Homo sapiens: one gene and its partner. The protein of the gene in region 1 purifies or fractionates together with the protein of each later gene. This does not show direct contact. Each region holds a gene or a part of one and is shown on either strand. Other genes may lie near its edges. The genes, in order: CEP20 and CRYGD.

Region 1 (3,822 bases):
CCCAGCTGCTAGGGAGGCTCAGGCATGAGAATCGCTTTAACCTGGGCAGCGGAGGTTGCAGTGAGCCAAGATCACACCACTGCACTCTAGCCTAGGTGACAGAATCAGACCCTGTCTCAAAAAAAAAAAAAAAAGTTCTGAAAGTTGTTTGCTTTACTATATAAATGTTTTAAATGACATTCCAGTTAAATCTAACTCTCCCACAAATCCTTGTGTAAAATTAATGTTCCAGGATCATATACTACCTTTGTCATTGTGTGTATAGTGAAGTCCCTGTTGCTTAGCGTAGCACTTTACACCTCTTTCTACCCGTCTGTTGTTCTATCTGCTCACACCTGATTTCTGATTATGCCTGGAAGACACTTTGCAACTTTATGCTGCTTTGCCTTGTAAACCATTCCCTTATCCTAGAAGCCCTACATCACCTTTCTCCCTCTTCTATTGGAGCATCTTAACTTCTATTGGAGCATCTTTCCTTTCTGTTGGCCCTGTTCAGATAGTAACTCCTTTATGGCATTTTCCTCTTTCTCTTCCTCTCATCTTCCCTTGTTTCTTTTTTTTTTCTTTTTTCCTTTTTGTGAGATAGGGTCTCGCTCTGTCGCCCATGCTGGAGTGCAGTGGCCCCATCTCAGCTCACCGCAATCTCCTCCTGGGTTCAACTGATTCTGCCTCAGCCTCCTGAGTAGCTGGGATTACAGGTGTGCACCACCATGCCCAGCTAATTTTTTTTCATATTTTTTTGTAGAGATGGGGTTTCACCATGTTGGCCAGGCCGGTCTCGAACTCCTGGCCTCAAGTGATCTGCCCACCTCCACCTCCCAAAGTGCTGTGAGGTTTTTTTGTTTGTTTTTTCAAGGCAGGGTTTCACTCTGTTGCCCAGGTCTCTAGAGTGCAGCGGCTTGATCATGGCTCACTGCAGCCTCGAACTCCTGGGCTCAAGCGATTCTCCCACCTCAGCCTCCCATGTAGCTGGAATTACAGGCATACGCTGGCATGCACCATCATGCCTGGCCAATTTTTGTATTTTTTTTAGAAATGGTGTTTTACCATGTTAGCCAGGCTGGTCTCCAATTCCTCAGCTCAAGTTATCCACCTACCTTGGCCTTCCAAAGTGTTGGGATTACAGGCATGAGCCACTGCACCTGGTAACAAGTGTTTTGAAAAGTATAAAAATTGTATAATTGAGAACAGTGGGAAAAATAATTGGGGGAATCTAAGCGTGACTTAGGATGAGCAGTGAGTTATTACATCATTTAATACAAGACATCATTTTACATTTAGCAGTTGATGGAAATAAGCAATGACTATTACTGGCTTCTTGGTAGCTTTTGAGATACCTACTTCAGATGAAAGTATTAAGAAGTTTGTGCTCACTTTAACAGCACATAAACTAAAATTGGAGCGGTACAGAGATTAGCATGGCCCCGGCAAAGGGATGACACGCAAATTCGTGAAATGTTTGATATTTTTTTAAAAAAGAAGGCCGGGCGCATTGGCTCACGCCTGTAATCTCAGCACTTTGGGAGGCCGAGGCGGGCAGATCACGAGGTTAGGAAATGGAGACCATCCTGGCTAACACGGTGAAACCCCGTCTCTGCTAAACATACAAAAAATTAGCCGGGCAAGGTGGCGGATGCCTGTAGTCCCAGCTACTTGGGAGGCCGAGGCAGGAAAATGGGCGTCAAACGGGGAGGTGGAGCTTGCAGTGAGCCGAGATCGTGCCACTGCACTCAGCCTGGGCGACAGAAGCGAGACTCCGTTTCCAAAAAAAAAAAAAAAAGTAAGTTTGAGAGAGGATGAGGAAGCAAAAAAAAAAGTTGCTAAAACGGCTTTATTTTTTAAAAGTTAGGTAACTTCTTTAAGCCCTTGTTTCTCACACTTCAGTGATTGGCATTCACAGAGTTTGCCATAGTCACATATTACTCATATTATTTACTTACAGATCTGCAGTGCTGCATCTGAAACCACTGAGGCCAGATACATGTTTGAAAATCCAAATGCTGTCGGGTTTTAAAATGACATGCCTGTAGTCCTAGCTACTTAGGAGGGTGAGGCAAGAAGATTACTTAAATCCAGGAGATTGAGGCTGCAGTGAGCCATGATCTTGCTGCTGCACTCCAGTGTGGGCCACACAGCGAGAGTTCTTTTTTTTTTTTTCGAGACAGAGTCTCACTCTGTCGTCCAGGCTGGAGTGCAGTGGCGTGATCTCGGCTCACGGCAACTGCCGCCTCCCAGGTTCAAGCGATTCTCCTGCCTCAGCCTCCCAAGTAGCTGGGACTATAGACGCATGCCACCACGCCTGGCTAATTTTTTGTATTTTTAGTAGAGACGGTTTCACCGTGTTAGCCAGGATGGTCTCGATCTCCTGACCTCATGATCCTCCTGCCTCGGCCTCCCAAAGTGCTAGGATTACAGGTGTGAGCCATCGGCCCAAGACTTCAATTCTTTAAAAAAAAAAAAAAAGTAATATGGTACATCTACCAAATACTACATGTATGTGCCAGGGAGTCCTAAAGTAGTATTCCACAATCACATTAATATTTTCTTTCTCTTTTTTTTTTTTTTTGAGTGCAATGACATGATCTCAGCTCACTGCAACCTCTGCCTCTTGGGTTCAAGTGACTCTTCTGCCTCAGCCTCCTGAGTAGCTGGGATTACAGGAGCATGCCACCACACCCGGCTAATTTTGTATTTTTAGTAGATACGGGGTTTCTCCATGTTGGTCAGGCTGGTCTTGAACTCCCGACCTCAGGTGATCCTCCTGCCTTGGCCTCCCAAAGTGCTGGGATTACAGGCTTGAGCCACCACACCCAGCACATTAATGTTTTCACACAAAGTAAGATAAAGTCTGTAATAGCCTTGTTAATAGCCTTGTTAGGTCAACCCTTGCCATCTGATGATTTTTTGCCAGATATATGAAGAGAATCCAGTTTTCAGAATTTTGCATTTCAGAATTACAGGCAAGTTATTGTGAGGCCGCACTTTTCTTTATCTTTTTGAAACTTATTTTAAAAGATAAACCTTAATCCATGAATTTGCAAGTTGCCTCTCCCTTCTGCACTCAAGCGATCCTCTCACCTCAGCCTCCCAAGTAGCTGGGACCACAGGTGCATATTACCTTCTGTGGCTAATTTAAAATAAAATTGCTGTAGAGCTAGGGGACTCGCTATGTTGTTCAGGCTGTCTCAAACTCCTGTTTGAGGCCAGGCTGGCCCCCCAAAGTCCTGGGATTACAGGCCTGAGCCCCCATGTCCAACCCAAAATTTTAATCACAAGTACATTTTTTTGAATATTTATTTAAAAAATAAAACTTTTAACATTTAAAAATCATCTTGAACCAGTTAACACTTTGGGGAAGATTAAAGTAAACAAAGAGACCTGTTTTATATTACTAGGTGACGCTTTCATAAGAGTTGCGGCATCTTATTAAATAAAGAAACTTACTTTCCTGGTTTCCCTGTGGCATGGAAAAATTAGTGTGATATTATTCCAGAATTTGGTAGCTTAGAACAACAACATAGATTATTTGTGGAATATTCGGGGATTTGGGATTGGCTTAGTCACGTAAGTCTAGCTCAGGCTCCCCCTTGAGGTTGGAGTCAAGATGCCAGCCAGGGTTGTAGTCGGAAGCCTTGAATGTGGCTGAACTATCTGCTTCCAAACTCATAATGATATTGACAGGCGGCCTCAATTCCTTACTGCATGTAACTTTCCAGGGCTGCTGAAGTGTCCTGAGGCATCTGACTTCTCCCAAAGGCAGCAATCCAAGAGAGAAAGCAAGGAGGAAGCTGCAGGGCCATTACCACGTGGCCTCTGAAGTCA
Region 2 (4,565 bases), on another chromosome or scaffold:
AGTTTATTTTATTTTATTTATTTATTTTTTGAGACATGGTCACACTCTGTTGTCCAGGATGGAGTGCAGTGGCACAAACCCAGCTCACTGCAGCCTCGACCTCACAGGCTCAAGCGATCCTCCCATCTCAGCCTCCTAAGTAGCTGGGGCTACAGGCGCGCACCACCATGCCTGACTAATTTTTTCACTTTTTTGTAGAGAAGGGGTCTCACTATGTTGCCAGGGCTGGTCTCGAACTCCTGGGCTCAAGTGACCCTCCCACCTTGGCCTCCGAAAGTGCTGGGATTACAGGTGTGAGCCACCACACCCAGCCACAAGTTTATTTTCCATTTCAATAGCCTCCAATTATTAGCCACTAGAGACTCTTAACTTCCTTGAGTTAGGATCCTTACCAATTTTTGAGCACCTACCATACGCCTGCTATATGTAGCAATGGGGATGAAGAAAACAATCAAAACAAAACAAAAGAAAAAGGTATTTCCCTACCACCGTAGAGCTCTATATAGAAAGAATACAAAAAAAAAAAAGCAGCCAGAAAATAAGAATTAAAATAATTTGTATTGCACATAGTTGGTGTTTAATTCATAAATACCACTTACAAAGATTTATGACTCAAAGACAAGACAAAGTACTTCCATGGGTTGACACAGGGCTGTAAGCAATTCTTTGAACATGAAAGAAGCTGGACACATAGGTCATATTCCACTCCAGTACTCTTCCCAGTCCATCAAACTGCTCTCTTCCAGGCCAATAAGTACTTTCTGAAGTCTTCCTCGAGTCCAACTTCTAGATTTTTATTCCTTCCTCTCCCTGCATCATTCCAGCCATAGCTCCCCTTTGTGTTCATGCAATTAATTTCGTCTGAGTCAAAGGCCTTGTGTACTCTCGCTCGTTCAGAGGGCAAAGGTGTATTCTAGATCCTACCAGAAATAAGTTTCTTAGGAATTTGGTTTTATTTTATAACAAGCTAAGAGATCATGTTTTTGTGTTTCAAACATATTACTTTTTCTAATTTCCTCAAACTTAGATATTTCCCTTTTTAGTTCTTTCTGAGATTAAGCATCTTAGAACTATTCTCTCTTTTGAATCACGGCACCACCTTTAGCTAAGAGAAAAACATCTAATTCTCAGCTACTTCCAGGCATAATTGCAACAAAATCAGACCCAATATTGAAGATTCACGTTTGCTGTGTGTTTTACCATAATAAAAGTTCGAAATTCTGTGAACTCTCTTAATAAAATGTTCCAATTTCTTACACCCTTTCATGATGACGTTCTCTTAAAGGACTAACTTGAAATTTTCAACATTCAGTTAAGCCCATTTCCTTCCTATTAACAATCAGTATTCAATATTGTGGCACGTAAGTAATACTGTAGTTCTGACAGATTAATTTATATTTGCCTTATTAAGAGTCGTTGCTTTTTTTGCTCCCCGACTTAAATTTTTTTTGTTTTTCCCCAATCTATACGAATAAAAGCGTGAACTATATGTGAAATAGCTGAAGCTCCACTTCCATTATAAATAGACAATGTCCCAAATTGCCGTTTTACAAACATTCTCAATAGCATCAGCCAGTGATAGCAATCCGAATACTCCAGAGAGAATGCGACCAAAACCCACAACAAGCCCCGTGGTCTAGCACAGCAAAGAGAAAAAAAGAGAACACGAAAATGCCCTTGCTCCCCTCCGGGGGCCCCTTTTGTGCGGTTCTTGCCAACGCAGCAGCCCTCCTGCTATATAGCCCGCCGCGCCGCAGCCCCACCCGCTCAGCGCCGCCGCCCCACCAGCTCAGCACCGCCGTGCGCCCAGCCAGCCATGGGGAAGGTGAGCCCAGCCTGCGCCCCGGGACCCCGGAGCTTCCTCCATCGCGGGGGCCAGAGACTGGGGCAGGAGCAGGCCTGTGAGACCTCGCCTTGTCCCGCCTTGCCTTGCAGATCACCCTCTACGAGGACCGGGGCTTCCAGGGCCGCCACTATGAATGCAGCAGCGACCACCCCAACCTGCAGCCCTACTTGAGCCGCTGCAACTCGGCGCGCGTGGACAGCGGCTGCTGGATGCTCTATGAGCAGCCCAACTACTCGGGCCTCCAGTACTTCCTGCGCCGCGGCGACTATGCCGACCACCAGCAGTGGATGGGCCTCAGCGACTCGGTCCGCTCCTGCCGCCTCATCCCCCACGTGAGTACATCCTCAAGTCAGGACCCAGGCCCTCAGGACACTCACTGGATGGTTTCAAGCAAAAGTTAAACATTAGAAGTAGTGATCAGTCACAATAACTGAGAGTGGACAAAAGATGAACTATAGTGGATTAAGTCAATAGAGTTTGCTCCCCACATAAGCAAAGTATTACCCAGACACCAGTTAATCACAATTAATCCACAAATATGTATTGAGTAGGAATGTGTCTCCTGCCCTAGGGGTTGTATAAGACTTAAGTCCTATTCTGGAATCATTTAGAATGGAGTTGTAGAAAAACCACTAATACCCAATAGAAGAATAAATGCTAGAGCGTACAGCAGTTACTGAGCAAACAGGGTAATTTCTTTTGAGACTTTTTCCCGTTTTTGCTCCTCTCTTGCATATTTTGGGTTTTCCCAACCTATATAAGTAAGACTTTCCTTCAAAGGAGAGCAACACACATATTTTACACATGTGTCCCTTTTATCCCATATGTGTGTTAGAACACTAAAGTTTATGCAAAATTCGTCCTTGGACTTACTGATGTTTCTTCCTCCATTTTTCTTCATTGCATTCACAAGTTATTGACTTAGAATTAATTGTTCTTTAATATATGAAGATATTTAACATTTTATATTTTAATATATTTTAAATATTTATATTTTAATATATTTAAAACACTTATATTTTGAATAGAAGGCTTATATATTTAACATATTTTATTTATGTCATTGATTTAAATGATGCATTATCATTTAATTCAATATATTAAATGATATATTTAATATATTTTAAATACTTATATTTAAAATACATATTTTTATATTTTAAATATATTTACATTAAATATATTTAATGAATATAATGTATTTAATAATATATTTATTTAATAAATATGTATTTAATATATTTATATAACTACATAAATTATATTATATTTTAAATATATTTAACATATTTTAAATATATTTTAATATATTTTTAATATATTTCATTTACATTATATGTGTGTATATATATATTTTTGTTGTTGTTGTTTTGTTTTTGTTTTTTGAAACAGAGTCTCACTCTGACGCCCAGGCTGGAGTGCAGTGGTGCAATCTCGGCTCACTGCAACCTCCGCCTCCTGGATTCAAATGATTCTCGTCTCTCAGTCTCCTGAGTAGCTGGAGTTACAGGAGCACGCCACCACACCCAGCTAATTTTTGTATTTTTATTTTTATTTTATTTTATTTTATTATTTATTATTATTATTTTTTTTGACGAAGTCTTGCTCTGTTCCCCACGCTGGAGTGCAGTGGCATGATCTCGGCACACTGCAACCTCTGCTTCCTGGGCCCTAGCAATTTTCTTCCCAAGTAGCTGGGATTACAGGCACCCGCCACCACACCTGGCTAATTTTTGTATTTTTAGTATAGACAAGGTTTCGCCATATTCGTCAGGCTGGTCTTGAACTCCTGACCTCAAGTGATCCACCTGCCTCGGCTTCCCAGGGTGCTGGGACTACAGGCATGAGCCACTGCCCCACCCCTTATATTTCTGTATTTTAAATATATTTTATTTATATTTTAGTAAAGTTATTTTAAAATAAAATATAATTTGTAAAATAAATATAATTTTAATTTATACTTATAAAATATAATTTGAATATAATTATTAAAATAAAATATGATTAACTTTAAATAAAATATAATTTTATACATTTTATAATATATTTTAAATATAGTATATAATTAAATATGTATTAGATATCATATGTATATTAAAATTATACATTATTTAAATATATTTCTTTATAATTTAATGTTTATTTTAATATTAAAACATTTCTTCAAAATGGTATAAAATAGTAATAAGCTGTTACAGGTTTGGATTTGCATGTGGTACAGGATACTGAGCCTAGGAGGCAGCTCATCCTAAGAAATAGCTGAATATATTAAAGAGTGAGATTTCCTTCTCAATTTCTTCACCACACTTCATAATCTTGAAAAGGTACTGAATCTCTGTGCTCGGTAATGAGGAGTTTATAAATATTCAGAATTAATTAAATTTTACCATGTATTTCAAAATGGCTTGAGCGGGTCCTCACCAAGCTGGACTGCCTAACAATGCATTGGAATCATTTCACACTTGCTTTTCTTCTCTTTTTATTTCTGGGTCCGCCAGTCTGGCTCTCACAGGATCAGACTCTATGAGAGAGAGGACTACAGAGGCCAGATGATAGAGTTCACTGAGGACTGCTCCTGTCTTCAGGACCGCTTCCGCTTCAATGAAATCCACTCCCTCAACGTGCTGGAGGGCTCCTGGGTCCTCTACGAGCTGTCCAACTACCGAGGACGGCAGTACCTGCTGATGCCAGGGGACTATAGGCGCTACCAGGACTGGGG

Evidence for each region.
Region 2: the proteins of CEP20 (region 1) and CRYGD purify together in Homo sapiens (affinity purification with mass spectrometry; one large-scale study listed by BioGRID and IntAct). This does not show direct contact.

Annotation. Positions count from the first base shown.
Region 1 is NC_000016.10:15,874,811-15,878,632, reverse strand, and holds part of CEP20 (centrosomal protein 20), read left to right. Parts: intron 1-3,822. UniProt on the Homo sapiens protein: Involved in the biogenesis of cilia. Required for the recruitment of PLK1 to centrosomes and S phase progression.
Region 2 is NC_000002.12:208,121,725-208,126,289, reverse strand, and holds the start of CRYGD (gamma-crystallin D), read left to right. Parts: upstream 1-1,765; 5' UTR 1,766-1,816; coding exon 1,817-1,825; intron 1,826-1,935; coding exon 1,936-2,178; intron 2,179-4,344; coding exon 4,345-4,565. UniProt on the Homo sapiens protein: Crystallins are the dominant structural components of the vertebrate eye lens.